Homo sapiens: one gene and its partners. The protein of the gene in region 4 interacts with the protein of the main gene of each other region in a pairwise test. Each region holds a gene or a part of one and is shown on either strand. Other genes may lie near its edges.

Region 1 (7,728 bases), on a different chromosome or scaffold from region 4:
CTACTCCAGTCTCTAGATTCTGGAGGAGCAGCATATGACGAAGAGAAGCAATGGACAAAACAGAACAAAATATCAACAAATAGGTCAGACCTATGAAAAGAATTGGCAGTTAGCATTTCTGCTAATAACACAGATGTGTGCACACCTTACCCAGAAATGTTTCTTTGGGGCCCAGGTAGCATCACAACCATCCTAACCCGATGTCTGCACCTTCCTCCAAGCAGACTTACATCCCCACAATCCTGGCCCCGATCAGACCCTACAGGACATGCCTTTACCTTGCGTCCACAGGCAGCTCACCGAGATCACTTTGCATATAGTCCCATGACAGTTCCACTGCACCCAGGTAGTATCTTCTGGTGGCACTAAAGCAGAATCGCAAAAGGCACAGAAAGAAGCAGGTGGAGAGCTCTATTTGCATGACTTATTGCTACAAATGTTCAACTGGAGAAGCAAAAGGTTAATTCTTCTCTAAAATATCTTTAGCTCCCAGGAGGGGAAAAAAGTAAAATTTCTGATTTAATGAAAAGTCCCAATTTCTTTGCAGAGCATTTTAAGGAACTTTACCCACTGGATGTGCTCAGCACTAAGCAGTAACCGATAGGATTGCTTCCTTTTTATCAGTGGGAAGCAGCCACAGGAAGAACTGAAGTAGCAAAAGGGAGGCTGCTAAACTTAACCCATTCACTTCTGAGAGCAGTAGGGGCATAAGTCTGCTTTAATCAGAACCTTTAAGGAAAGGAGGAGAGGGATGGAGAAGTCAAAGTGAACAGGAGCTTTAATTTGTGCTCCTATTCCTAGCCTACTCCAACCCTCTTCCTGAGTGGCAGCAGCAAGAGAAGTTCTGGATGTTGTCGAAGATTCTAGAATTCACTTGCACTAGCAAGAGTAACCAGCAACCTGTTAGTCTCTCTGCTTTTGCCCTTGCCCCTCACACTGCTGCCAGTATGAGGAATTTATAGTTTTTAAAACTGTAGTTTTACATATAACATGAGGTTAGGCAACTATTGTTTTAAAAACTATAATTTATAGTTATAATTTAAAACTATAAAGCGAGTCCTGTCACTCCTCTTCTCAGAATCCTCCAATGGCTTCTGACCTCCATCAGGGTAAAACCCTACATCTTTACCATGGCCTAGGTCCTAGAGCATCCCACATGGTCTGCATGCCCTTTCTCCTGACCTCTGTAGTCTCATCTCACTCTGGTTATACTGGTCTCCTTACTCTTCCCTAAAATATCAAGCACACTCATGCCCCTGGACCTCAACACTTGCTATTTCTTTTACCCAAAACACCTTTCCCCCAGATTTCCACGTAGTTCCACTCCCACAACTCCTTCACATTTCAGCTCCAATCTTCCCTGTTGAATGAGGTTTAAATATGGAACACCACATTTATGTTGTAAGCTCTTTACCCCCACCTGCATCACTGATATCCCTCTTGGCTTCATTTTTCTCAATAGCACTCATAACCACCTGGCATTTATTCATTTATTTATTTTGTTTTGTTTTTAACCTAACACTTTTCCAGGCTGTTTACATTTGGCCCAGGTATAGGATATATCTCTTTACATCAGAATGTAGCCATGGTGAGCTCAAACACCCTACTCAGGTTAATGTTTATTAGGGAGAGTGAGGGCCCCTGCAGGGGCCTCAAAGTGTAAGAGATTATGAGAAGAAACTTGATCAGGGTTGCTATAAAAATGTTATCATTGAGCTCAGTTCTGCACAAACAAGAATGTGTTAGGGAGCAATTGGTATATTGTCGACTGGTTTGGAAACAGGCAGCAAGAAGCCCCTTTGATAAACACTCCTCTCTGACAGGTACAAGGATGCAGAGATGACAGCTGACACTATATGCCAGGAACTGTTCTAGGTGCTTTTAAATACAGGTACTATTCTTACCTTCATTTTATGGGTGATGAAACTGAAGCACGGAGAGGTTAGGCAACTTCTCCATGGCCACACAGCTTGTGAGTGGTAGCATTCAAACCCATGTACTCTGGCTCCAGAAGTCATGCTCCTAACCACTATGCTATACTTCTATGCCTCAGAAATGAAGAAATCCCAGTTCCCAACCCCCTGGGAATGACAGTCCAATGGAGGAGACAGAAAAGTAGACAGTTACAGTACAGGGTGATAAATTCACTGCCAGGTGCTACACATAGGCTATCTGATTTAATCCTCATGACAACACCGCAAAGTGGATACAGATAAAGTAACTGAGGTACAGAGAGGTTAAATGGCTTGCCTACAGCCACATAACTACCCATTTGTCCTAGACAGATATTGTCCTAGGCACTGGGTACACATTGATGAAAAATATAAGCAACTGAAAGAGGGATGATAAGCAATAATTACAATACATGAGTACATTATACAGTATGTTAGAAGGTAAAATAAGTGCTGTGCAAAAAAGAGAAGTGGGGTAAGGGGGAGTAAGGGTGGACCAGGTTGCAATTTTAAAGGAGGTTAGTCATGGAAAGTTTCACTAAGGTTGCATTTCAGCAAAGGGACATTGACTTCTACACTGAGGGCAATGGGGAGACACGGCCGGGTTGTGAGTAGAGGAGGGTGGTGATCAGAATTATCTTTTAGGCTGATCTTTCTGATCACTGTAGATAAAACAAACTCTAGCAGGATAAGGGTAGAAGGAGGGTGGCCTGTTAACCGGGGGTGAGAAATGGTGGCGGCTTGGGCTATGATGGTACCACTGGAGAGGGTGAAAAATGGCTGGATTCATTGTGAGGGTAACGTTTGTGGGAACTGCTGATGAATTTTGGATCTGTGGGCTTTGAGAAGGAAAAATTTGGAACACCAAGTTTTTTGGAATAAAGTTGACTAACTGGGATGGGGATGACTGCATGAGTAGCTTAGGGGCGGGGCACACTGTTAAAGGGCTCCTCAGGCACTGCAGGCATAGAAGCTCCTTTCTTTCCCAGTGCTTCTCTTATAGCGATTACAATGTTTTAAAAATGTGTCTTCCAGACAAATACAGTACAATCCAACATGTTTGAGGTTCTACAGTTAACAGATTGTATAATTAATAATCTGGGTGGGAATGTTAATCAGGAATGAAATACAATTTAAAAATTAACAAAGTAATGAGTCAGAGGCTATATTGATAGAAGCACTTTTTAAGGAATAGCATTCCCTGGCCCAAGGGCTTAGTTGATTGAAAATTTTATCTATTATTGCTAAATTTTAAATCAAAATATGGCCGGGCACGGTGGCTCACACCTGTAATCCCAGCACTTTGGGAGGCTGAGGCGGGCAGATCACGAGGTCAGGAGATCTAGACCATCCTAGCTAACAAGATGAAACTCCTCCTCTACTAAAAATACAAAAAATTAGCCGGGCATGGTGGCACGTGCCTGTAGTCCCAGCTACTTGGGAGGCTGAGGCAGGAGAATCGCTTGAACCCGGGAGGTGGAGCTTGCAGTGAGCCGAGATCGCGCCACTGCACTCCAGCCTGGGCAACAAGAGCGAGACTCTGTCTCAAAAATAAAATAAATAAATAAATAAATAAATAATCAAAATAGACCCCATTACCAAATTTTCATGTTTTCAAGGATTCTCTAAAACCTACAATATTATCAATTACATATTCACAAATAATTACTGAATACAATATGGTATGTGGTAAAGTACAAAGGAGTACTGTGGCCATTTGTGATAAATAGAAATCAAATTGGAAATCTTCATAGATAACGTATTTTTTCTTTTTTTTTTGGAGACGCAGTCTCACTCTGTCGCCCAGGCTGGAGTGCAGTGTCGCGATCTCGGCTCACTGCAAGCTCCGCCTCCCGGGTTCACGCCATTCTCCTGCCTCAGCCTCCCGAGTAGCTGGGACTACAGGCGGCCGCCACCATGCCCGGCTAATTTTTTGTATTTTTAGTAGAGACGGGGTTTCACCATGTTAGCCAGGATGGCCTCGATCTCCTGACCGCGTGATCCGCCCGCCTCGGCCTCCGAAACTGCTGAAATTACAGGCGTGAGCCACCGCGCCCGGCCAGATAAGGTATATTTTTATTCCTTTTATTTTTACTCAACTCCTATGGTGCCACAAAATCCTATATTAAGCAGTATAATTGAAAAGAAAAAGAAAACAATAGCACAATGATTATAAAGAAAATAGCCTGAGTTAACTTCATTTGTGTCACTCCTAAAGCAGTGGATCAGATGTCAATGTTTATTATCATTCACTAATTACATTTATGAATAATTTTTAAAAGTAAAGGAAAAGACTGGCTGTTTTAACTAACATAATAGAAACTGTTGCTGGATTTTCTGTTGAAGGTATATTTTGAAGTGAGTTTTATTAAGTATAACTCGCATGTAAAATTCAAAAGAAAAATTAAATACATAAATAAAATGTGTCTTCCTCCACTAAAAGAGTAGGACACATCGCAGAAGCCGATAAATATTTGTTCAATGTTTACATGAACAAACACGGTCACTCAGCCGTCTTTATTTTCAGTGAGTCATAGGTAAAATATTCTTCACCAGGCGAGGATTGAGTCGCAGTCGCGTCAGGAACTCGCCTCCAGGTACTGAGCGAGCGAGCCCCGACGGCCGCGGTGGGTGGAGGGGGGAAAGTGGGGGAGAGTGGGGCGGGAGTAGAGGGAGAGCGAGGGAGGGAGCCTCACCCCCGGGACGCTTTCTGCGCACGCGCATCTCGGTGCATCTGTTGGGCGGGACCGCGGGGCCTGTGACACCGCACGCTGAGCTCTGTGATGTAGCCGCTTGCGGAGACTGCAAGCAGCCGCGGCGCGCCCGGCCCTCCCTCTTCCGCTGCCGCCGTGGGAATGGAAACATCTGCCCCACGTGCCGGAAGCCAAGTGGTGGCGACAACTGCGCGCCACTCCGCGGCCTACCGCGCAGATCCTCTACGTGTGTCCTCGCGAGACAAGCTCACCGAAATGGCCGCGTCCAGTCAAGGTAAGGGCGGGCGCGCGCGCGGCCGGCGCCGCGGGGAGCCGCCTTCCTGGGCTCCGGAAGGGGAAGGGCTCCGCGCCCGCCAGTCGCGACCGAGCTCCCCGGGGAGTCCAAGCGGCGCGGGGACGGGGAGGGCGCTCGGGGATCGCCCCTGGCTCAGCCGCTCCCAGGGTCCGGCCAAGGTCACGCGCGTGTCTGGGGCCTAACCACCCTGGGGTGTCGTCTCCAGTGGAGCTCACCCAGCCTTCCGGCGCCGCCCCCGGCGCAGAAGCCCGAAGACATTCTGTCCCCGTTCTCGGAAGCGGTCTGGCTTCTTTGTCCCTTTGGACGTTCATCTCAAATGCCTCGTGGCGTCATTCTGTGTACAAGGCACCTCCCCAACTGCTTTATTGTTGGTTTTGAAAAACTAGCACATATGGGATGGTACTTAGGAATAGCCTTCTGTTTAGTCGGCATAGTCAAAGATTCCGTGTAATTCGCAGTGGAGCACGTCTTTAAGTTATGCGTCTTACCCTATTTTGAATGTTTAGGTTGTATTTAATTTAGTACTGACTCACGGGATCCCATTGCTAAACAGAGCCATCATTGAAAACTCAATCATATAAACGTAAAATTACGTAAATTATGTTAAAAACAAAGGCAGTGAAAATACTAAAAACTCATCACTTTTATTATTTACCATGTTTTATTGTTACTTTACTTTTGAGGTTATTTATACATCTATTGTATCTTTGTGGAGGAGATACTATACTATGGTGCTCTACTGTGCGTCTCTTCCCATCTCTGGGTTCAGTAGTTTCACAATTCAGTAATGTCATGCTCACGATGAATGAATACGCAATGGAAATTGGCTACACTACAAATCAGCCCTTGCCTAAAGCCGACTGTTAAGCATTTCACCAGCACGCCGCTAAATTTTAGATGACTCTGGGAAGGTGGAATGTGCAATGTGATAATTATGTATTTTCCTGCAGAGCAGACTGCTCTTATAGACTTTTATAAGAGCAGACTGCTCTTATAGACTTTTATAAGAGCAGACTGCTCTTATAGGTTGATCAGGTATTTGCACCTAGGAAATTGTTGTGAGAAATTTTGAGGTTAAGATGAGTTTCAATTGTTATCACAGTGATGATCACATAATAACTGTGATCATTGATTTTGTGGGCTCATAAACGAAGCTATTGGCTGACTTTTGTCTGTCATAGTGCTTAGCAGTGTTTGACCAATGACTGACCAAATATCTCGCATTTAATCTACCTTCCCCCCTACTCCCTTTTTTAGGGACTAGATCTGTCATTCAGGCTACAGCACAGTGGCACAATCATAGCTCACTGCAGCCCCAGTGGAGCCACCTGTTGATCTAAGGGGCTTGGTCAAATTACGTTAAAACTGTAATGTTTTGTTGTTACATTAGAAAAATAAATTATTTAACTACTTGAGAGGCCATGGAGTACCCAGGTACTCAGACATCCATATTTTGTTCTGCTAAATGGGCGTCTGTGATGTATCCTGAATGAATTCTTGAATTATATTTTGTGTATGGTTTAAGGTAGAGGTTGAGAGTAGTTTTTTTTGAAACACAAATATATAGTAGTTCTAACATCATTTGTTGTTTCCTTCATTGAGTTACCTTGGTGCTAAGTTATTAAAAATCAAATGACTATATGTGTGGATCTATTTCTGGATTCTGGATTCTCTTCCATTGCTATATTTGGGTATCCTTGGGTCAGTTTGACAGTGTTGAATGTCATTGCTTTATAAGCCTTGAAATTAAGATAGTTGTATATTATACTGTAGCTTTATAATGAGCCTTGAAATTCCTTGAACCCTCCTCTTTCCCTTGCCCGCCTCCGCCCCCAGGATTATTGTGGCAGTTTGTATTTTCCTGATTGCAGCAATATTTTCCATTCCTTATGGTCTTTTTCCTAGTGACTTTGACACTCCTCCCACCCAGGGGTGGGATCTATATTCCCTCTTCATGAATCTGGATGGGAGTTTGTGACTGACTGCCTGTTCCTACAGAATGCAGTGGAAGTTAACACTGCATTTGCTCTCTCCCTTTCTTGGGACTTTCACCTCCTGAACTCAGCTCCTATGCTGTAAGGAAGCCTAGACTGACTCACATAGAGTAGCAGCCTATCTATCTGTGTGAGTGTAGAGTCTTCAGACCCAGCCTGTAAGTCTTCTGGCTAAAGCCTCAGACATGAAACAAAGACAAACCACAGTGCTGTGGCTGAATTCCTGATCCACAAAATCTGAGAGCATAATATATGATTGTTTTGCTTCATGAAGTTTTGGAGTAATTTGTAGTACAGCCGAAGTAACTGGAACACTGCTGGGTTTTTTTGTATCTTCATATGAATTTTAGAACCAGTTTGTCAATTACATAAAAACCTACTTTTTTGCCGGGCGTGGTGGCTCACTCCTGTAATCCCAGCACTTTGGGAGGCTGAGGCAGGCGGATCACCTGAGGTCGGGAGTTTGAGATCAGCCTGACCAACATGGAGAAACCCTGTCTCTACTAAAAATACAAAAAATTAGCCAGGCGTGGTGGTGCATGCCTGTAATCCCAGCTACTTGGGAGGCTGAGGCAGGAGAATCACTTGAACCTGGGAGGAGGAGGTTGTGGTGAGCCGAGATTGTCATTGCACTCCAGCCTGGGCAAAAAGAGCAAAACTCTATCTCAAAAAAAAAAAAAAAAAGAAAAAAGAAAAAACCTACTTTTTAATTGAGATTGTATTGAATATATAGATCAATATATGGAGAGAATGAACATCTTAAAAATATTGAG
Region 2 (7,949 bases), on a different chromosome or scaffold from region 4:
GAAGCTGGAGGCAGCTAACCAGGAGGAGGGCCTCTTATGTGATTGGTTTGGGGGACACAGGTGGCTTTCTCTGTTTAGTTCAGTGGGCAAAAAATAGGGAAGCTTGCAGTTCCTGACCAAGTCCTAACCATTCTGGGATAATTGTTACAGAGGCTGTGGTTTGGCTTCCTGGCTAGTTCTGCAGAGAATCTGATTCAAATCCTCTGGCCGTATGTGGTCTGGCCATTGTCTGTTTGCATGTTCAGTCTCTTAGTCCCCCTTGTCGGTCATTTTCTTGTTTGTAAAAGGTTGGCCAACTCAAGGAAGTCTAGAGATCCAGCTCTTCACTGCTCAGAGATTATTCAGTTGTCTCTCTGGTCAACCGTATTGTGAGATCTTGATCCTTCTGTTGTTATAGCATCACAGTGCTCATTTGACAAGAATGGGATGCAGTGGAACAACATCAGGACCACTATGACAGAAACAAGAGCAACTGTCCCTGTGAGACGCTTTGAACGCAAACCTCAGCTGACCAATGCAGGCCAAGAGCAAATCCCATATAGGCCATGAGGATCAACCTTAGAAAGCCAAATAGCTTTTGCCTCAAGGTGATGTGTGACCTGTTCTACCTTCTCTTGTTTCACTGATCCAGATGCAGTATTAGCAGTGGCAGAGGCCATCACCAACCAACAAGAAATCTACAGCAATGAGACTGTCCATCACTACTCATGCCAATGAGTTGAGACTGATAGGTGCCCCATCTAGGGAAGAAGGGGCATTGCTAATGACTTCTGCCAGGGTTAATGATAAGTTTATGACAACAGGATTCCCACAGATGAGAACATTGCTCTGATTGTTTGCATAAACAATGAGTCAGTAACTCCCCAGTTAGAGTGCTGAATAACCAAGGGTGATGTTACGGTTTTTGCAGTTTTACACCAACCGGTTTGTGGTAAATCGTTACAGCAACCCTAGGAAAACCAACGCACCATTTCTATGTATGGTTAATGCATGGCAGGTGTTTAAAGGTATTGCAGGATATTGGTGCTTTTCCTTTCCCCAGTGCACCTCATTGATCTCAAGTGAGGGATTTTTCTTTTTGTCTTGATTTTTGTTTTCTAAGTTGAACAATCTTTTTTTCTCAGTGTCCTTTCTGTATACAGTATCTATAAGTGCCCTTGTCAGTAGCTGACTGGTTGGGGAGGGGCTACCCAGCTGTTTGATCAGCAGGGCCACAAGTTAATTTTAGGTCCTGTCTTATTTTTGTTCTAAAGCACTTTTAAAATGTCTGCCAGGTGTTGTAGTTCAGGTTAAGGGGCTATTTCCCATTCTCATTTCTGTTTTTGATTAGGTCTCCGATTTCAGATTTAGCTCCTTGACAACAAGCAATGAAAGGGCCACTTTCTAGACTCCCAAATGATACAATGTATTTTCTAGCCTATCCCAAAAAAAACTCCTGCAGGTCCTTTTGTTTGTTTGTTTGTTTTTGCATGACAAGGGATTATGGTCTAATCTTTTTGGTGGGGGGAATGTTTGAGATATGGCTTTTAGAAGACTTTGCCCTATGTTTTGAGCCTCTTTGTTAACTCTTCAGTTTTATTGTGGACAGTGGGATCCTAGGATCCCTTTTGGGGGAGTCTAGTCAACTTTTGCCATTCAGGATTTAGCATGCAAGGTTCTGGTCAATGTGTACAAGTTGATATGGGTTAGGTAACACTGGGTCACATGCTTCCCCCCGCCGCTTTGCGATAGGGTCTTGCTCTGCCACCAAGGCTAGAGTGCCCGTGGTGCAATCATGGCTCACTGCAGCCTCAACCTCCTGGGCGCAAGTGATCCTCCCATCTAGCCTCTTGAGTAGCTAGGACTACAGGCACACACCACCATGCCTGGGTTTTTTTTTCCATAGAGATGGAGATCTCACTATGTTGCTCATGCTGGTCTAACTTGTAGGCTCAGGCAGTCCTCACTGATTCACCTTCCAAAATGATGGGATTACAGGTGTGAGCCATAGTGCCTGACCAAAGTATTCTTAATTATTTTATGCATAGTTGCTGATCTTGCCTGGGTTTGGGGAAATCCTTAATTATGGTTATTAATTTAGCTTGGGTCTAAGGTTTAAATTCCACAGTTGTCTGTATATGGGGCTCATGGAGGAATAGGCCTTCAGAGAGGCAGCTGGCATCCTGGGGTCATAGGAGGGTTGTTGTGAAAGGGCAGGGATCTGGACAAGAGGAAGAGAAGTGTGGACAGATGTGTGGAAGGGAAGAGATCAGAAGGATAAGGGGGAGAAGAGGGAGAGCTGTATTAGGGAAGCAAATGGATGATAAGCAGAAGGATTTACTAGGAAAATGAGTCTAGGTTGTTGCTGCTTAAGTTTGCCAAATCGCTCATCAGCTTTAGCCAGAGTCTTTCAGGGAAGCACTTTTTGAATCAGAATATCATTTGGAGACCTCTGACTACCAATCAAAAAAGGCTGCTCATTGGGCCTAAGAAATCTTATTCTCTTTCGTTTCTAAGGCATCTCTCAAATGAGCAATTTTGTTCAAGTTAGATGTTCTCCAAATAAGATCTTCACCAAATCAACCTTGGTGAAGTTAATGCTTTTCAGAGATGGGCGTAAGGATTAGAATTGTTAGAGAGTATATGTAAGAAGCAGGAGTTTTTTCTGGAGGAGGAGATTTAAACTTAGACAACACCATGAATGCTGGCTGGTGAGGCTGGCGAGAAATGGAATGTTTGTGTCTCTCAGGACATGAAAGCGAGACGGAAGGAGAACCTCATTCAGTTTTACTGGAAACCCACAGCAAAGTTTCTCCAAGTAGAGGCCGGTGTGATGAGAACTGCTAAATCATGAGCTGCGAGGCTGGCTCAAACAAGAGGCTTATGAGCCCCATGCCTGTGTCCTTTCCTACGGTTTTCCTTCTTATGACAAGCAGCACTTTTTGACAGCACAACACTAAACACTAACACAAAATACAGTGAAAAGGGATAAAAAGAATGGCCTGATTCCACTAGAGATGCCAGACAAATGAGAATCAATAACAAAACCAGAGTACCAAACTGAGAATAAATAGCCAGAGACCTCCACGCAGAGTGAGGTGAGCCCTAGTGCTGACCACATCGGCGCACCTGATAGGCCGAGAACATGGAGGCATGAGGGGCCTCTGGGTGGCACAATGGGTGGAAGCCTGGGGACCTCAGGGACAAGCAGTACAGACTTACCATGGGATCACCAGGAAAACTGTGGAAACCAGCAAAGGCTATTTATTCACAACTTGCTATAGCAGGGGAATCAGCCAGCATCACTTACTTTTGGTAGAAATTTAAAAGGCCCGAAAGAGATGGGAAACTTTTATTGTTTTGTTTTGTTTAAGTATCAGATTGGAAATTATTGGCAGGAAATGTTTTTAATTACATTTTTCTGATATTAAACCCAACACAGTTGTACTTTAATATTTTCCCTAGGAGAACTACTTATTTTACAACTATATCCCAGTGTATCACCCATGATCAGCCACATAATTTGAATCATGCATTATCTTCTCTCCACATTCAAATTACATACATTTAGTATTTGGCTACTTAAAAAAAAATCATTAAAAAGTAACAATTTAAATCCATTGATGGGAGAACCTCAGTTAGTTTCAAAACAACAATTCTTGCCAGGCGGGGTGACTCACGCCTGTAATGCCAGCACTTTGGGAGGCCGAAGCTGGAAGATCGCTTGAGCCCAGGAGTTCAAGGCCAGCCTAGGCAACAGAGGGAGGCCCCATCTCTACCAAAAAAAATATTAACAATTAGCCGGGCATGGTGGCATGCACCTGTGGTCCCAGCTACTCGGGAGGCTGAGGCGAGAGGATCGCTGGAGTCGGAGGTGGGGAGGCTGCAGTGAACCGTGATCGCTCCACTGCACTCCAGCCTGGGCGACAGAGCGGGACCCTGTCTCAAAAAATAGATGAATAAATAAATAAAAACAATTATAATGGAAGTTTGGATAGGAATTTAAAACATGTGGCAACTAACCCTGACCCTGCGGCTTCAGTCTCCCCGCCGCTAGCTGAGGGCCGTGGCCGCTGCACAGAGGCTTGTGAGGATTCGGGGGTTCAGGCAGCGCCCGCCGCGCATCTGCCAGACGTGCGGCCACAGGGTAGGAGCAGTAAGAAGGATCCAGGGAAAAAAGTCCACGAATGAGAAAGGAAACCCAGCGTTTGTAGGGCTAGGAGAACAAAGAAAGAAAATGCTGGCGGCGGAGGGCGAGGCTCTGCGGTGCGTGGCAGATGGGAATTTGCTCGGTGGCGGCTCCTCTTTCTGGAGAGCTTCCCAGCGTCCCCTCCCCCGCCAGCCCGCGGTGACGCGCCCGGCACCCACCACAGCCGGCTCTCGGCGCCGTCGCGCCTTCGCTCGCCCGCTTAGGCCGTGCTCGCGGTGGCGTGGGAGACAGAGAGCCCAGGGAGGACCCTGGAACATGCAGTGGTATGGAAGACGCCTAAGAAAGGGCTTCTCTTTCCACTCACGAAAATCAGTGTGTGAGCTCGAAGCCATTTCCCAGCGTGTCCGCCTCAACTCCCTCATTCAACAGATGAGGAATTCCTCCAGGGAAATGCAGTGATGCGCTCACGGCTGCCGGCGGCCCAGCGCCAAGGGGCGCTCCACAGCCCCGCGGCCCGAAGCCCTCGACTCGGCTGCCACGCAGGCCCCGCGGCCCCGCTCGGACTCCCAGGATCGGCTTCCGAGCGGGACAGCGCTGCAGTCCACGAGTCCGGGCAGGGGCGCCTCCAGGCCGGAGCGGTTTCCTGCCTCGGGCACTCTGCTGTCTCCACAAACGGTTTTTGGAGGCACACACACGGATACTTTAAACACGTCGGTGATGAATCGGTACCCAGCTGCCAGTGGCGGAGCTTCCTGGGCGGGGCCGCGGGCGCGCGGCGGCTTCATTTCCTCGCGCGCGCCGGAAGTGGCCTCTCAGGCGCGGCGGCGCGCCCGGGGGTGGGTGGCTGAGGCGGCGGCGGGCCCAAGGCGTGAGGCGCCGCCCGGGTGTCCCCGCGGCGCAGGAGGCGGTGGAGCGCAGAGCGGGCGAGCGCGGTGAGTACCTGGCCCGGCCTCGCCCGCCGGTCCGCGACTCCCGCCGGCTCCGGCCCGGGCGGTGCGGGCGCCGGGGCTGCGGGCTCCTGTGTGGTCGGGTGGGGTCGCCTAGCGGACCGGTCCTGCGGGGGGCCCTGTCTCTCAGGGATGAGCCTGCCGGAGTCGGCACCGGTTTTAGGGAAAGCGCGGCCAGAGACGATTGGTTCGCTTGTCAGTGTTGGGTTTTGTTTTGTTTCGTTTTGTTTTTACCTATTCATCACCATCTCTGCTCCTCTCAGTGGATAAACTTTTTAATCAGTGGTGACCTCGTCATCGCGTTAAAATAGTTCTGCCCTCAGCCCCTCTTTATCTGTAGATGGCAGAGCGAGCGCCGGTAAAGATGCTCTGTCGTGGAGGGCTCAGTGGGGCGGAGGAGATGGGGAGCCTCTGGCGTTGTCGGAGAATGCACCTTAAAAATGACTCTACCCTTGAGCAACGCAGGAAGCACGACAGTGATACTTCTGTTTGTGATGATGGTATTGGCGGTATGATAGTTTGATTATACATCTGAAGCTTCTCTTCCTGAGTCCTTGGCTTGTTAAACTTGGAGGTATTTTCTAGCGTGCTTTTGAGATAGATATGGGATGTCGTGACGTTTCACCGTCATTCAAGGCTCGCGGGAGCAGGGCCTTCATGTCTGGTAATTAATGTTGTTTTTTGAATGTTGTATTAAAATAGTAGCTTCGATCTTGGAAGTAAGAAGCCAAGTATTTTAGGACTGAGTGTTAGCGTTCATTTTGTATTATTGTTCTTGTACCATTTGTTTAAAGTTGTCATGTAACTAAAAGAATGAAAAAAGATGGATTTCCAGTATTTGTGGCTCAGAGGATTTTGGCCTAAATAAACACAGTTCCAACCAGTTTAGAAGCTGCATTTTTCTCTTTGTTTTTGTCGAGGCATAAAATACATATGAAATCAATAAGAGCACGAATCTTAATTGTACAGCTCAATGAATTTTTACATACTTATTACCCTGTGGAACCACCAGATATATCAAATTATAACCATAGAACATTTCCATCATCCTATTTTCCTGTGCTTCTTCCAAGTCAGTTATATCCTTGTTTTCCCATCTGTATTCTAACTTCTCTTATCTGCTTTTAGTTTTCTCTGTTTTGAGCTTCATGTTAATGGAATCACGTAGTATTCTCAGCATATTGTTTGTGGGACACACCCATGCTATTTCATGGTATTGTATTATTACTGTGTAATAGTCTATTGAATAATATGTGACTACTCTTCAGTTGATGGACATTTATGTTCCCAATTTTTGTATATGATGTGTTTTGGATATTAAGAATACTGTGGGCCTGGCGTGGTGGCTCAGGCCTTTTATCCCAGCGCTTGGGGAGGCCGAGGCAGGTGGATCACTTGGTCAGGAGTTCGAGACCAGCCTGGCAAACATGGTGAAACCGCATCTCTACTAAAAATACAAAAATTAGCCAGGCGTGGTGGCGGGCGCCTGTAAGCCCAGCTACTTGGGAGGCTGAGGCGGGAGGTGGAGGTTGCAGTGAGCCGAGATCGTGCCACTGCACTCCAGCCTGGACGACAGAGCCTGACTCGGTCTCAAAAAGAAAAGAAAAAAAAAAGAGTACTGTGGACATTCTTGTAAATTAAATGTCTTGGTGAGCATCTGTATGCATTTCTGTCAGCTATAGAATGACTGAGTCATGGCATAAGCAGAAAATTACCAACATGGAGTCATTACCAACCATACCATTACCAACCAAAGGCAGAAAATTTAACCAACATGGAGTCATCTTTTTTTTAATGTAATAGAATTTGTTATTTTAACTAATATAACATTCAAGGTTGGTTTTAAAAAAGCATAACTATTATGAGTTCAAGACGTAAGTGATTCATTCATTACCATGTTATTATTTACCCTTTGAATTGCACATTTATGACTGTCTTCTGTCGGACTGTCATTGTTTGTTTAACTGTTAGACAAGTCTGTTAGAGCTGGTGAGGATCTGACTCTGAAGTTTAGCATAACATTTACTTAAGAACTGTATTACTCAAGTTAGTGGTTTTTTAGAGGAAATGAAATACCAAAAGGATATGACTGAAAGTGGATTGAAGAATCACGGGACTGCAAGTCAAAGAACTTACATTGTTATTGTCATGCTACACAAGCACTAGGTATAAGTGTAAAATTGAATTATAGGGCTAGTTACAAATGTGAATTCACAGCAGGAGTACAGTGATTTTCATATGGACTGAGATACTACTAGCACATTTATAATGTGAACACACAACAAAAATCACTAAACATTTGTGGGAAATCGGTAGCATCTAAGAGAAGCTTCAGACCAAACAAATACAGAACTAGGCACTGAAGCAGTGGAGCTAATGTAAGACAAAAGAAAGCTTTAAAGTAAGTATTAGTATCTTCAAATTTGTTAAGGTATTATGCCTACTGAACACATACAGGCTGCCATGAAAAAAAGCAATTGATTCTTGAATATTTAAACATGGAAAGTAGGAAAGGGCCAGGTGTGGTGGCTCATGCCTGTAATTCCAACACTTTGGAAGGCCGAGGCAGGAGGATCTCTGGATTCCAGGAGTTTGAGAGCAGCCTAGGCAACATAATGAGACCCTGTCTCTACAAATAATTTTTTTTTTTTTTGAGACGGAGTCTGGCTCTGTTGCCCAGGCTGGAGTGCAGTGGCGCCATCTCGGCTTACTGCGAGCTCCACCTCCCAGGTTCACGCCATTCTCCTGCCTCAGCCTCCCGAGTAGCTGGGACTACAGGCGCCCGCCACCATGCCCGGCTAATTTTTGTATTTTTAGTAGAGACGGGTTTCACCATGTTAGCCAGGATAGTCTTGATCTCCTGACCTCATGAT
Region 3 (7,914 bases), on a different chromosome or scaffold from region 4:
GATCACAAGGTCAGAAGATCAAGACCATCCTGGCTAACATGGTGAAACCCCGTCTCTACTAAAAATACAAAAAATTAGCTGGGCGAGGTGGTGGGCACCTGTAGTCCCAGCTACTTGGGAGGCTGAGGCAGGAGAATGGCGTGAACCCAGGAGGCGGAGCTTGCAGTGAGCCGAGATCACGCCACTGCACTCCAGCCTGGGCGACAGAGTGAGACTCTGTCTCAAAAAAAAAAAAAAAAGTAAAAAACTAAATTATAGCAGCCTCTGAACAGGATAGTTGTTTTTTTGTTTGTTTGTTTGTTTTTCCTTACTCACACCTAAGAAGTCTGGAGGTGGGCAGCCCAGGGAGGCCTGTGCTGCAGGCATTGTGGATGCAGGTTGCTTCTGTCTTCAGCTCCACTATTTGAGGCTCCCATGGCCAAGGTCTCCTCACGGTCCAATACGGCTGTTGGAGCTCCAGCCATTACATCCACTTTCCAGCCAGCAAGATAGAGGAAGTAATAAAGAATGGCACACCCCTTCTGTTTAGGGTTCCTTCCCTGATGTTGCACACAACATTTTCATTGCCAGAATGTAGCCATAAGGGTACCTCTAGCTGCAGGGGAGAGAGAAATGCAGCTCTGATTCTGGGAAGCCACTGGTGCAGCTCAAAGTCAGCAGCCTGTGACTGAGCAGGAAGAAGAGAACAGATAGTGGGGGATGACTACTCTCTCTGCCACTTTGCTGTGGCAGCTGGGGACAAGAGCTTTGCTAGGCACAGATGTCCATAAATGCAAAGTGGCATCAGCCCCAGCCTGGCCCCTGGGAGCCCCAGTGGGAGAGACGGATGCACAAACAGGAAGGAACAGAGCAGTGTGTCAGGGTGCAGCAGAGGAAGCAGGGGCCAGCCTCCTGCTCCTGCCTGTTCTCTGCCCGCAGTGCAGCTGGACCCCTCCACATCCGCTGGCCTGGCCTCGCTTGCTCTGTAGACGATGGCATCCCACTCCCGAATGCAGATGGCCATAATCCACTTAGCCACTCCCTTGTGGTGGACGTCCACTTTGTTTCTGTTGTTCTGTGGCCTTCTAGGGCCAGCTGTGCCTCGCTGTGCAGCCTGGACACATTGCTTCTCTGTGGTGGACAGCATGAGAGGCTCTCATACCTGCGTGGTGCTCATCTCCCATCACCTCGCCCCTTATCATCCTTGACCTGGCTGTGCCTCCCCTCCCACTGAGCCCTGCCTGGTGACCTTGGCAAGTCCCTCGGCTCTCTGAGCCTCTGCCATCCCATCTTTAGTGTGGGGATGATGGCATGGCACCTCCTCACAGGCCTGGGCTTCCTTCCTCTGTCCTTCTGGAAATGGGGTGGCCACGCTACACACCCGCCTCCCTTACCTCCCTGCTCTGTACACTGACCCAGTGAGAGCTGTGGTCCCTGGGGACCGCCTGATAGAAATGCAGACTCCTGGGCCCACCCTGATGCCAGGTAACAGCTCCTTCAGGTGGGTGGGGAATGGATGGGCCACGCCTGGTGCTGGCAATACCACAGGCTTCCAGGGAGTTGCCATTGCCCTGGGCCGACTGCCAGCCCCGTCCTCCTCCCGCTCATGTTAGCAAGAGCATGTGCAGGCGGGCAGGTGGGCATGCAGAGCTGGGTCACCTCGGGCATGCTGCGCCACCTTGCCAGACTCGCTTTCTCCCTTGGTGATGTGGAAACGGCATACCTGCCTGCAAGCCTCTCCGAGGTGGAGGAGGCCAGGGACTGGCTGCTTCTGAAGGCTTTCTGTAGGTGAAAACATGGTCCATCTGACCCATGGACCTTTCAACAGCTTGGTGCTTTCACCGCATGTTCCCCCAGGTCTGAGAGACACAACTGTACTCCCCATAGTACGCGGTGGGGGTCGCTTAGACCGTGCTTAGTCCCAGCTCCTAGGACAGTGGGTGAGTAGAAGGTCCAAGCCTCCGGTGTGCCTGTTCTCTGCCCCACTGGGGTCTCATTCTTGGTCAGCGGGATGGAGCCACCTGCTTGAGGTGGCACTGTGAGGAGCACGCTGGGGTGACACCTCCATGGTCCTCACATGCCATCTTGCCTTATACCCACTTTACATATGAGGAAGCACATCCCAAGCCAGAAGGGGCAGATCTGAACTCAACACAACGCCAGCCCCAGAAGAATCCACTAGAGTCTTTGATGGGGGAGAGGGATGCACCAAGCCTCCCTGGGCACCAGAGAGGCATCCTGAGATACCCTGTGGGCTCCTCCACAGAGGCCTGGGGCCCTCGTACATATACAGTGTTTGTGTGTGCACACCCACCCACACATAGGGCTGCTCTGCTGGGGCATCTGCCAGCCCGTTCCTCCCAGCCACACCCCTCCTCTGTGTCTCTCCTGGGGACATGTCCCTCAGCTCAGGGTCAGCGTCTAGAAACTGGTCTTGGACAGCTCATGCACTCATGGTCTCCAGGAGAACTTGAAAGTAGGTGGTTGGGCCCGGTGCAGTGGCTCACGCCTGTAATCCTTTCACTTTGGGAGGCTGAGGTAGGCAGATCACAAGGTCAGGAGATCGAGACCATCCTGGCTAACATGGTGAAACCCCGTCTCTACTAAAAATACAAAAAATTAGCCAGGCGTGGTGGCGGGCGCCTGTAGTCCCAGCTACTCGAGAGCCTGAGGCAGGAGAATCGCTTGAACCTGGGAGGCGGAGCTTGCAGTGAGCCAAAATCGCGCCACTGCACTCCAGCCTGAGCAATAGAACGAGACTCCATCTCAAAAAAAAGAAAAAAAAAAGGTAGATGGAGGTGACACGGGGTACACTGTGCCTTTAAGACTTGTCCTGGGTTGGATCCAGCAGAGAACAGTTGGGTAAACAGCATTGAGCACAGTGGGGAAAACAGACACTACATACTCAAATGAGGATGACGGAGCAGACGAGGGAACTCCAGCGCTGCAGCCTGCCTGAGCCCTGACACCCACACGTCCTGCCAGCAGCCCCAGGAGCTGAGGAAACTGAGGCTGGGAGAGGGTCTCAGACGGCCAGCACAGAGCAGGTTTACAAACCCCGAGGCTGATGTCCCAACTGTCACTGGTGCTGCGACCCTCCCGGCTTCCTCTTAGAAGGTGGGAATGGGGCCAGGCGCAGTGGCTCATGCCTGTAATCCTAGCACTTTAGGAGGCTGAGGCGGGCAGATCACCTGAGGTCAGGAGGTGATCTGGCCAACATGGTGAAATTCTGTCTCTACCAAAAATACAAAAATTAGCCGGGCGTGGTGGCGCACACCTGTAGTCCCAGCTACTCAGGAGGCTGAGGCAGGAGAACGGTGTGAACCCGGGAGGTGGAGCTTGCAGTGAGCCAAGATCGCACCACTACACTCTAGCATGGGCGACAGAGCAAGACTCCATCTCAAAAAAAAAAAAAAAAAAGGATGGGAATGATGAACCACACTGCAGGAGCTCCCACATGGCACAAAGGAAAGAATACTCTCAGGACGGGGTCTCCACCTGCCAAGCCCTCCTACTTCGGGGCCTCTCTACACGCCCTTGGCCTTCCAAGGTCTCAGGGCTCCCCTGCAGCTCCCAGGGCCCTTTCTGGGTGTGACGTATTTTCTCTGTGGTCCCACACCTCCTGCCCCTCCAGGAATTGAGCCCTCGTGGGCAGGCACTATCCCCCAGAATAGGGATTTGTCCCATACTGTGAGAGAGTTTTTTGTGTGAATGGTGCTGGATTTCCAGCTGCTGGTGAACACTCAGGTGTGCCAACAGTGCCCTGATTATGCGAGGACAACAGCAACCATCCCCGTCGTGGGCCACCGTGCCAGACCCTGTCCTGCAGATCCCCTCTGAGGCAGAGCTGGGGCAGTGACAGCCTGAGCCTCAGTTTCTCTGCTGTGAAGTGGGCCCACGACAGCTCCTCCTTCATGGGATGACCCCGTTTGGAGGATCAGGGCAAGCGCAATCCTGCTGCCCTGCCCATGCCCACTCACTCCTACCTCCTGTCCCGGTGGCAGCCTGACTGGACAGAGCCTGGGGTCTGAGCTGGCCTTCCTTCCACTGCCCTTCTGGAAATAGAGTGGCCATACTGCCGCAAGCTGACTATGCTGTGGTCAGGATGAACTCCCCTGGCCTCCCAGGGTGGCCGCCACATGCTCTCGACCCCCAGGCCCCCAGATGGGCAAAGTGCTGAGGAATGAACATATGGAGAAACAGAGACCAAACAACCACTTCAATCATACAACAGGTGGGGGCCCGCCTAGCATCTGGCCAGGGCTCTGGGCACTGTGCTGCCCCCAGCCCACCCCCTGCCACAGGTGGCACAGATGGGCCCATGAGTCAGCGCACGTTCATCCCCTTTGTGCCTCCCCCAGCCCCTCCAGCAGTCTGTGCCCTCATAACCCCCATTTCCCAGGCAGGAAAACCTAAGGTCAGGGAGTGGGAAGCCCTGTGTCAGCGTGGCCCGCAATCAGGGGAACCCCGGACTCTCTGACGCTGTTACTAGGGGCGCAGCAGGCGCTGTGCTGGAGCGATCTGCGGTTCCCAGGGCGAACCCCGCCTGGGAAAAACCCAGCGTGGGCGCCAGCGGCAACGCCCGCTCGCTTTCATGCAGTTTGCCTGGTGGCCAGGGAAAGGTCGTTCTTGGCCTCATTTTGTGGATTAAAAGTGTCCGCGACGGAGGTTCAGAGCAAGACGCAGCGCAGGGTCCTCTGGGGCCATCGGCGTCGCGCCCCCTCCCTTGTGGGGCCCCGCGGGACCGTCTCAGGCCCGAGGGGTTGGGGTCGCCCCAAACTGCGCGCTCTCAGCGTACAGCCTCCAGGCCCCGGGCCCGCCCCGGGTGGAGGCGGAGTCTGGGGCAGCAGCTCGCCGCCGGGCGGGCCGGGGGCGGGCCGGGGGCGGGCGCGCAGCTGGAGCCTGCGGCTGAGGCTCGGGCGCGCTCAGGCCCGGATCCTGGCGGCCTGGGCGGCCGCACCATGGACTCGGGAACCGAGGAGTACGAGCTCAACGGCGGCCTGCCTCCGGGCACACCCGGCTCCCCGGACGCCTCGGTAAGACCTTCCCCCCACCGCTGCATGATCTTGCCAGGCCCTGTCCTTTCGGGGCGCCGCGGCTCCCCGGGCACCTGTGTGCGCCGCGTCCGCACTGCAGAGTGTTGGGGGACGTCCCGCTCTAGGCCAAGTCCTTCCCGCCCCATCAGGGTCAGAACGATGCCCCCGGGAGCTCCAGCCACCCCCGGCAAGTGGGCGGGACGAGGGGGCGTGGGGGCGCAGGGCGGGCTGGCGTCCCCAGCCCCACTAAGCAGCGCCCGCGCTTGGCTGCACGGCGGAGGGGGCCTCGGCGCAGCTCCTCGGGCTAAGGACTGCCGGCGCCCGGCTTTCCCGACCTCCCCCCCACTCTCGCGCGGGCCTCTCTAACTTCAGCCTCGCCGTGCCGGCTCCTCCGCGCACTTTGCCCGGAGGCGGGCGGAGGGGAGTCACAGCCTCCGGGCTCCAGACCAGCTGCATGCAGACAGTTACGTCACCCCACGCTGACCACACAATCTGATGCGTGCCTTGATGGGGGAACTTGGGGCCCGCTGTGGTCCCTATTCCACTCACCTGCCTTGAGAAATAGAAACGTCACACAGCCTTCAGTGTATGCCGCCACCGGCCCTCCAGAACTTGCCCTGCCCGGCCTGGGAGGGCTGTGGGCAGGGGGCAGGCCCTGGTAGTGGTCCCGCTTCAGAATTCTTCATCCCAGGACTCAGCACTTACTGAGCACCTTGTGTTTGTTGCAAGGTCCTGGCATGGCCCTCTGGTGACTTGTTTACTTTGAACATTCTTTCCTTTTCTAACCCCCTCAGGGATGGGGGCAGGGAACAGCAGCCTGTTGGGTTTTTCCAGGCCTCTCCATGGCGTGGACCAGACTGGGGCAAAGACACTCTGCCCACTCGCTGGTGAACAGTCCTAGGCCGGTGCTGTGGGGACAGGACATGTTCGGGGAGGCGGGGCCCCATGAGCCACGGGATAGGATGGCCCTGGGGCTGCATGGACACTTGTTCCTAGGTTAGAGAGGAGCTGTCGCACTGCAGGACTTGACCGGTGTGCGGGACCCCAGCGACCTGGCCCTGCCCCAGTGTGTGAGCACTTTGGAGCAATAGGCAGGGGGCTCCTCCGGCTGTGTGTCCTTGGGAAGTTGCCACACCTCGCTGGGCCTTTTAGACATGGTCTTATAAAGAGAGAACAAAGGGTCTCTCCTGCCTTCAGGGAAGTGGGGAAAGCAAGTCAGGTAATAAACAGGTCAGTGGCTTGGAAGCGCCTTGGAAAGGAAGGGATACTGCTCCTCCCCCAACCCTGACCTTGCCCGGGCAATGCCCTCCACTCAGAGCAGTCTCTGCTCACTTCTGCGGGCGGCAGGATAGGCTGTGCCTCCTGAGATGGGTGCATCTCAAGCCCAGAGGAGATTGGGTTGGATTTGTTCCCGGATCACTGTCTTGGCTCTGGGCACCAGAGGGAGAGAGACACAGCCCCGCCCCACCAAGCCGCGGTTGGAGAGCAGCCCAGCCCAGACAGGGCAGGAGAGGCCAGGGCAAAGCAGGGGGTTCCCTGGGGGCTGGGAGCCCATCGTGGGGGGCGGGGCATGGTGGTCAGGGAAGGCTTTCTGTGGAGGTGGGGACATTGGCTCTGAGCCCTGGAGGGCAGGGAAGGTGGGTGAGCAGATCTGGCTCTCTGAGATGTGTGGAAGGGCATCTAGGCAGAGGGAACAGTGGGAGCAAAGGCTCAGAGGCTGGACCACAGAGCACATGAGGGCCAGGTAGGAGGTGGGGGGATGGGAAGCCAGGCCGATGGGAGGGGCCTTGCAGGCCTGATCACGGTCTGGTGTCCAGGGAGCTGTGGAAAGGCTATGAGCCAGTGTGAGGATGAGCACATTTCCCCTTGAGGGGTAGAAAACTTCGAGGGCCGCTCTGCTCACCCAGCCTGGGGGCCCAGGACCACCCAACACACCTGTTCCTCTTCCCAACCTCAAGACCTTGCTTCTCCGTTTCTTGGGCACATCATGTCAGCACTCTGTGCCTCAGTTTCTCATCTGTGAAATGGGTGTGGTCGCGGTGCCTGCCATAGAGAGTGGTGAGGACTCAGTAGCTGATGTATATGAAGTGCTTAGAGCCAGGCCAGCACTCAGCGCCCTCATCCTTCTGCCTGCCACGGAGACCCTCTCCCACTGGTGACCCCTGGCAGTGGTTTGGAGAGGGCAGCGCTTTGCCCAGCTCCCTCAGTTTCCTTTTCTGTAAAATGGAGAGTCTCAGTTTCCTTTTCTGTAAAATGGGGCACAACTGCTCACCTCCCAGGGTGGACAAGGCTCAGGGAGGAGCCACACGTGGAACTCCAACCTGGGTGGGCTCTGTTGGGCCACGGCCGTGGGAAGCTCTCAGGTCTCCCCTACCCCGTGTGCCCTGCGCCCCTGTGGCCCTTCATGTGAGGGCCCCCATCAGTGTCCAGGGATTGAGTCAGCTCACTTGTGGCTGTCAGCAGAAGGAATAGTAAACAACAATGTTAATGTGAAAATGGCCTGAATCTGTTATCCCCAGGGTGTCTCAAGGCAGGGAGGTGGTGGGGATGGGGTTAGGACACGGCCATCTGGTGCCAGCCACACCTTCCTGCCCCTCACAGCCCGCAGGTTGAAGGTTCCTGGGGCCACATCTGGGCCGAGAGGCATGGTCCTTGGAGGTAGGTAGCTGTGCCCTGTATACCTGCCGTCTGGGCCGTGCATGGCCTCAGCTGCCCAGGAGGAGGTTTGCTCGTTTCCTCATTTCCGCTTTCCTGGCAGATCCTGAGGCCGGCAGGGTCTGGGCCAAGTTCTAAAAGGCAACCCTAACATGGTCTCAGGGCCACTCGTGGCCAGTGCTGAGTCCGCGGGAAGTGGGTCTGCCTGGCCCAGCTGTGGTGGGAACCCCGCCTTCCAGCACTT
Region 4 (7,017 bases):
TGATGTCCTGCCCTGTTGGAGAGGTCTGTTGTCCCCCTCTAAGTGATGACACCATCCACATGTGGACTTTGCCACGTTTGGATGTAAGCGCCTCTGCAGCGCCGACCTTCCGCATGGCTTCTTCACACTCCCTCTCCTGGCCATGCTGGGTACTGGGGACCCCACAGGGAGTGCACCCTCAGGACGCTGGGTTTGGTTCCAGCTCCGACTGGAACTGATTATGTGATCGTCCCTGGCCTGAGCGTAAGACCCACTTAACAAGACCTCAGGGGTTTTAGTCTCAGCTCCTTCCCTGGCCCAATCTGGCTCTTAGCCAGCCCCCCTCCTCCTCTGCCACTGTCCCAGCCACTGACCATGCCCTGGGTGCCCACCCTGTGCAGGGTGGAAGCCTGGCTTTGGGCTCTTGGAGTTCCTGGGCAGGGAAGGCTCCCACTTTCTGCCCTGTGAAGCCCACCTCAGTCCTGGCTGCCCCATTTCCCAAGGGGCTCTCAGGTGCAGTGGCTTCTGCAGCCCCTCTCTTGGGATGCAGGCCTGGGCACGTGCAGCCTTGTCTAGCTCTGCCCCAGTTTGCCCATCCAGCCCTCAAGTTCTTCCTGCCCCTTCAGGCCACTGCTTGAGCTGATGGCAGAGATGGATTCCTCCCTCCCCGTCCTGTCTGGCATCCTCCCTTTGGGACCCTGGGTTCATTCCCTGTTCTGGCCACCTTGTTTGTGGCCCCTCTAGGCCAGCAGGACAGACACACCCAGCGTGCGCCTGGCCTCAGCACCTCACACGCAGCGTGCATGTGTGTGCATCTGTGCTTGGCGTCGGCGTCACGTCTTACAAGGACAAGCAGGCACTGGGGAAGGGTGGGGACACAAAGGAGGAATGGGATGGGGGCTCCGAGGCCTGGGAGCCGCCCTGGGAGGCCTCTGCCCTGGGGACCGTTCAGCAGCTTTGGGCCTCTCTCCAGATCATCAGCCATGACACCCGGCGCTTCCGCTTTGCCCTGCCGTCACCCCAGCACATCCTGGGCCTCCCTGTCGGTGAGTCACGCCCCTGCTGGGCCCATTCGGAGCCCGGCAGGCTGCTGGGGCACTAGATCAGAGAGATGGAAGCTTTACATTTCCACCAGGGAGAGCAGGGAAGCCTTCAGGAGGAGGTGACAGCTGCCCTGGGCCTTTGAGGGCGAGTCTGTTGGAATGAGAGTGGGAAGGCCCAGAGTCCCTGGCAGTGGCACCAGCAGGAGTGAAGGCATGGAGGCAGGAAGCTGGGACGTGAGGGGAATCCCCGGGAGGGGTGGGAGGGGGCCGTGGGAGCTGACGCCAGGCCAGGCTTTGAATGCCGGGTGGGGTGCAGGGGAGTGGGTTGACAAGACCCAGGGGTCACCCGCAGGATGATCTCTGGCCCAGAGTGACCCCGTTCTGTCCTGCAGGCCAGCACATCTACCTCTCGGCTCGAATTGATGGAAACCTGGTCGTCCGGCCCTATACACCCATCTCCAGCGATGATGACAAGGGCTTCGTGGACCTGGTCATCAAGGTGAAGCCTCTGGGTCATGACTGTGGAGGGGGTGTGGGTGGGTGGCCATGGCAACAGCCCATGTGGACCCCCTGGACAGGGAAGTCTCCCGCTCCTGCCCTGTGCAGCCCAGCCTCGGTCATGGCTGCCCCACTTCCTCAGGGGCTTGCAGGGGCAGTGGCTTCTAGAGCCCCTCTCGAGTCCATGTCCCCCCGCAGCCCGGACTCCAAAGACCCAGTGCTCCCTTGTGCCTGGTTTCTGAGTAAATAGCACGTCATCTTTACCAACAAAAGCCAAAGAAGGGGGTCTTGGCAGAGAACAGGGGCCAGGGTTCAGGGCAAGTGCCTTCAAACAAGGACAGGTACCTGCAGCAGAGGCTCCAGGAAGGCCGGCTGGCGGTACAGACGCCCCTGCTGCGAGGTGTGACGGCGCAGTCCCGTCCCTGCTCTCACGCTGGGAGATCCCTGGGAGTTGGGTCCCGAGTGTGCGGGGTGAGGCAGCCACTCCACCGTGGTCAGCGGCCGGGCCTCTGTGACACGCAGGCCCTGTTCTTACCCGTTTCCCTAAGAAATGTCCCTCAGGCCTGCTAGGGAAACATGTGAGGGGCTCGTGTGGTGTTGTCTGGGAGCTGGGGTGATGGGCTTTCTGGGGTCTGCTGCGGGGTTCGAGGTGGAGGTTCACAGGAGAAGATGCAGGCGTTAGGGGCAGCAGCCCGGAACCTGAAACACACATGCCGAGTGGGAAGTAAGAGGCAGCATGACGGCCCCAGCAGGGACGTTTTTATGAAAATTAGAAATACAAGCTTTCAGCCAGGCACAGTGGCTCACACCTGTAAGCCACTTTGGGAGGCCAAGGCGGGTGGATCACCTGAGGTCAGGAGTTAGAGACCAGCCTGGCCGACATGGAGAAACCCCGTCTCTACTAAAAATACAAAAAAATTAGCTGGGCATGGTGGTGCGCACCTGTAATCCCAGCTACTTGGGAGGCTGAGGCAGGAGAATCACTTGAAGCTGGGAGGCAGAGGTTGCAGTAAGCCAAGATCATGCTACTGTACTCCAGCCTGGGCAATAGAATGAGAGCCAGTCAAAAAAAAAGAAATACAAGCTTTCCTGCAGAACAGAGGGTGAGAAGCAGCCTAGACCAGTGGGTATGTGGGGTGTTGGAGACCCTCCCCAATCAAGGCCAAAGCCCTATAGCCTCCCCAGCCCAGCACCCTCAGGTACCCCTGGAGCCCCCTTACTGGGCCGTAGCTGAGGCCCTTACCTTGCCAGGTCTGGGGGCAGGCACTGGATCTGAAGGGTGGGAAGGGCCCTGGCCCGGGCTCCTTCCTTGCTGGGGCGCCCAGGCCTGGCCTCAGGAGCCCGTCTTTGGCTGGAGGACGGACACTGGACACATAGTCATGGGGAAGCCAGTGCTCCCTGCAGGGGACAGGTACCTGCGACCGAGCTTCCAGAAGGGCCACCAGGGATGGGTGGGGTTGGCTGGTGAGAGTGGCTCCCTAGCAGGTGACAGTGAAGGTGAGATCTGGGGCTGAGTAGGCACTGACCAGGTGAAGAAGGAAGAAAAGGAGCTTCAGGTGCAAAGGCCCTGAAGTCAGCAGCAGGCTCAAGGATTGAAGTGGCTGGAGGGTTGGGGCAAGGGGTGGGAGAGGTCAGTGGGGCCAGACGGGGCCTTGGAGGCCCCAGTAAGGTTTGGGGCTTTGTCCAGAAGCACAGAGGAGGTGATGAGGGCTCAAGCATCTGTTCACGTTGAAGTCTCTCTGGCCAAATGTGGAGAAGCTATTAGGAGGATTCAAATTGAGGATGAAAAACTCACAGGTGACCAGGCCTCTCCTGGCTTGGAGACCTGGCTGGCTCCCTTGGTCCTTGATAAAGGTTAGAGTCCTGGCCTGGCACCCAGGGCCCAGGACAGTGTGCTCTGCCTGCCTGTCCGTGGCCCTCCACTCCCCTCTGCCTCCACACCCCATAGCCACCCTCTGTGCTGAAGCCACAACAGGCTCCCCTCCCTGAGGCACTGTGTACACGCTGTCCCTCCCCCAGCCACCTTCCCCTTCTCCATCCATCAGACTCCTTGGGCAGGGTGAGCCGCTCCTCCTCTGTCTCCCCATTTCTTTGTAGGTGTCGGATTGAGGCCCTTCTCTTTCCCAAGACAGTAATCCTAGAGAGTGCAGGGCAGGAAGTAGTCCCAAGAGTGAGGGAGGTTTTTAGCGACAGCACAAAACGGAAGGGACTGAGTGTCCACCAGGAGGAGTGTGGCTTAGTGGGCCTCCCAGAGCCTTGACTTTGCTGACGGGTTCAGTGTCTCCCGTTGGGAGGGGGCCCCAGAGACAGTTGGTGAAATGTGAGTGCATCCAGCCCTGGAGTTGGTCGGCCTTGTACACGAGGCTGGTGGTTTGCTTTCCCCGGATATGTCAGGTGGAGGCTGACTCCTGGGAGGACGGGGTGAAGGACGGGGTGCAGGACAGGTAGGATTTGACGGCTGGGTGGATGGGGCTCCACGGGAGAAGGCCATGTGTGGGCCTCAGAAGAAGCTGCAGAAGAGGCACTTGTCTCCCACTGTGGGCAAGAGCTCGCCCCTGAGACCTGGAGCTGGGGACTGAGGGCTGCGGGGGTGTCTTGCAGGTTTACTTCAAGGACACCCATCCCAAGTTTCCCGCTGGAGGGAAGATGTCTCAGTACCTGGAGAGCATGCAGATTGGAGACACCATTGAGTTCCGGGGCCCCAGTGGGCTGCTGGTCTACCAGGGCAAAGGTGATTCGGGTCGGAATCCCTTGGTTACACGGCAGGCTCAGAGAATTGGAGAGCTTGGGCGTGCTGGGTGCAGGGTGCAGGCCCCTGGCTCTGTGTGGATGGGTGACTCTCGTCAGGCCAGCTGTCCCTCTCTGGGAACTGAGTCTCCCTGGCTGTAGAGGGGGTAAGTTGCTGGCACAGGGGTTGCAGACAGGCCACTCCTGGGGGCCACGTCTCACCCACTGCCAGCCTCTATTTGGCTTTCTCAGCATCTGAAACAAGCAAGCAAGAGGACAGAGCTGAGCCTCCGGGTTCCCAGCCTCTCCACTGCTCCTGCACCTTCCTCATGGCTCGCGTTAGAATGGCAGCTGCCTCTACCTCGGACCTCACAGTGGGGGCAGGTTCTCCAGCCCCCTCTCCAGCCTCTCCAGCCACCACACATGGCATGTTTGATGGCCGGGCCTCACCCCTTCTCTCTCCCCAGGGAAGTTCGCCATCCGACCTGACAAAAAGTCCAACCCTATCATCAGGACAGTGAAGTCTGTGGGCATGATCGCGGGAGGGACAGGTACACGGAACCCCCCACTGAGGCGTCCGGCGGCTCATGTTAAGGGTGGGGTTGGGGTGTGGGTGAGGCGCAGGTTCTGAGTGCCTGGGAGCTACCAGAGGTCAGGGGCCCAGGCCCAGTGGTCCTGGCCCCTCCACCCCAGTACACCTGGGCGGGGCGGTGCCTGTGAACAGGCCTCGCTCAGCACGTGCGAGGCCCGGCCGGCTATTTTGCAGGCATCACCCCGATGCTGCAGGTGATCCGCGCCATCATGAAGGACCCTGATGACCACACTGTGTGCCACCTGCTCTTTGCCAACCAGGTCAGTGGGCATCCCCATGATGGGGAAACTCAGCTTACCCTGAGAGGGGACTTCGGGCCTGGTCAGGTGCTGTTCCAGGGGTCTGCACAGCTCTGCTGAGATTCTGGGGATGACCGGGATGGGGGGCCCTGAATGTTCTGTGCACTGGCGGCCTTGGCAGCAGCACGGCGGGCAGGCTTTGTGGTGCAGCGCCTGTGTCTGGCTGAGGGGGCTGCCTTGCGGGGAGCTCCCTGAGCACCCCCTCCCCTGGCTGCTTCCTCCAAAACTCAGAACTCCCTTCACCATGAGCACGGTGTGGAACCCACTGGTAGAGTGGGAAGAATGCTGGCCTGGACATGGAGGGGCCCATCTTACAAATGACCAGACATTTGCACGAAGCCCCTGAGCTACAGGGTGTCAGGGCAGGATTTGAATGTTGGTGTCTCTGGCTCCTGATTCATATCCTTGTCCACGAGCCCACTGCCTGCCTGCCCGCCCTGGCCTGCTGTGTGGTCTTGGACGAGCTACTTTCCCTCTCTGAGCTTCACTCCCTCATCTGTAGAATGAGCTGATGAAACTGGGTTGTTGCAAGGTCTTTTCAGGTTAGTGTTTTGTGACTGATGACGTAGATTTGGGGGAGAAGATGCTTGCCTGAGGTCCTTGGATGTGGGTCCTTGCCCCACCCTGCCTCCCCGCAGCTGCAGAAAACTGCCGCAAGGCCAACCAAGATGGCCTTGCCAGGCCCAGGGGAGAAAGAGCCAGAAATTCTAAGCTGGCTGGTGTGGAGGGAGAGAGGGCAGCAGTGAGACTTGGTGGTGCTGGTTCAGAGTCTGTGGAGGCCGTCAGACCGTCTGTCACCTGTACAGGCCATCTTTGCAGCTGGTAGCGAGGGCAGTGTGGTCGCCTCATCTCATACCTCCGAACACAGGCTCCGGGAGGGGCTTGACTGTGCATGTCTCGTGGGAAGTGCTGAAACCAGGATGCAAACCAGGGTTTTATTTATTTATTTATTTTGATACAAAGTCTCGCTCTTGTCCCTCAGGCTGGAGTGCAATGGCACAATCCTGGCTCACTGCAACCTCCGCCTCCCGGGTTCAAGTGATTCTCCTGCCTCAGCCTCCCGAGTAGCTGGGATTACAGGATGTGTGCCACCATGCCCGGCTAATTTTTATATTTTTAGTAGAGATGGGGTTTTACCATGTTGGCCAGGCTGGTCTCGAACTCCTGACCTCAGGTGATCCACCCGCCTCAGCCTCCCAAAGTGTTGGGATTACAGGCGTGAGCCACAGTACCCAGCCTATTTTTATTTTTAAAAAACTATTTTAGAAAACATCATTCTGTTTTACGTTTTTGCAAACCTTGGAATGTCTGGCTTCATAGGACAGCTAGATTCCTGTGTTTGTTTCTACATCCCATCTGTGTGATGTTGCCAGTCACGCAGCCTCTGGAAAGTGGCCCCATCTACTGAGAGAGGAAGAGTGAAAAATACCAGTGTCTCAGTATTATATGAAAACCATTTGGCCTCAGGGATCCTCTCCAGGGTCCCAACCCCAGGGGTCCCCATGCTACACTCCGAGAACCGTGCCAGTCGGGTCATTGCTGCTCGTTTCCTCTCCTACCTTCCTCCGTGACCTCAGTGCCTGGTTTTGAGCTGGGAGCCCCCTACCCTCGAGTAGCAGCCCCCCAAGGTTCCATCCCTCTGTTCATCTGTCAGGTGGGTCGCGGCGGTGGCCACCTCAAAGGATGGTGGTGAGGATTAAAGCATGAGACACACTTTAGCTCAGAGAGGAAGACATAACTTTTTTTAAAAAAATTGAGACGGAATTTCACTCTTATTGCCCAGGCTGGAGTGCAATGGCGTGAATCTCGGCTCACTGCAACCTCCGCCTCCCGGGTTCAAGCGATTGTCCTGCCTCAGCTACCTGAGTAGCTGCGATTA

The links.
Region 1: the proteins of CYB5R3 (region 4) and FUNDC2 interact in binary tests that used the Homo sapiens proteins (3 or more experiments, as listed by UniProt).
Region 2: the proteins of CYB5R3 (region 4) and CSGALNACT2 interact in binary tests that used the Homo sapiens proteins (3 or more experiments, as listed by UniProt).
Region 3: the proteins of CYB5R3 (region 4) and NINJ1 interact in binary tests that used the Homo sapiens proteins (3 or more experiments, as listed by UniProt).

The regions. Positions count from the first base shown.
Region 1 is NC_000023.11:155,022,132-155,029,859, forward strand, and holds the start of FUNDC2 (FUN14 domain-containing protein 2), read left to right. Parts: upstream 1-4,712; 5' UTR 4,713-4,807; coding exon 4,808-4,940; intron 4,941-7,728. Other genes in the region: F8 (coagulation factor VIII isoform a preproprotein), read right to left, coding at 279-421. UniProt on the Homo sapiens protein: Binds directly and specifically 1,2-Diacyl-sn-glycero-3-phospho-(1'-myo-inositol-3',4',5'-bisphosphate) (PIP3) leading to the recruitment of PIP3 to mitochondria and may play a role in the regulation of the platelet activation via AKT/GSK3B/cGMP signaling pathways.
Region 2 is NC_000010.11:43,133,507-43,141,455, forward strand, and holds the start of CSGALNACT2 (chondroitin sulfate N-acetylgalactosaminyltransferase 2), read left to right. Parts: upstream 1-4,938; 5' UTR 4,939-5,061; intron 5,062-5,066; exon of another isoform or gene 5,067-5,740; intron 5,741-7,949. UniProt on the Homo sapiens protein: Transfers 1,4-N-acetylgalactosamine (GalNAc) from UDP-GalNAc to the non-reducing end of glucuronic acid (GlcUA). Required for addition of the first GalNAc to the core tetrasaccharide linker and for elongation of chondroitin chains.
Region 3 is NC_000009.12:93,131,244-93,139,157, reverse strand, and holds the start of NINJ1 (ninjurin-1), read left to right. Parts: upstream 1-4,906; 5' UTR 4,907-4,940; coding exon 4,941-5,015; intron 5,016-5,564; exon of another isoform or gene 5,565-6,146; intron 6,147-7,616; exon of another isoform or gene 7,617-7,673; intron 7,674-7,914.
Region 4 is NC_000022.11:42,625,386-42,632,402, reverse strand, and holds part of CYB5R3 (NADH-cytochrome b5 reductase 3), read left to right. Parts: intron 1-952; coding exon 953-1,025; intron 1,026-1,414; coding exon 1,415-1,521; intron 1,522-4,121; coding exon 4,122-4,251; intron 4,252-4,714; coding exon 4,715-4,798; intron 4,799-5,013; coding exon 5,014-5,099; intron 5,100-7,017. UniProt on the Homo sapiens protein: Catalyzes the reduction of two molecules of cytochrome b5 using NADH as the electron donor.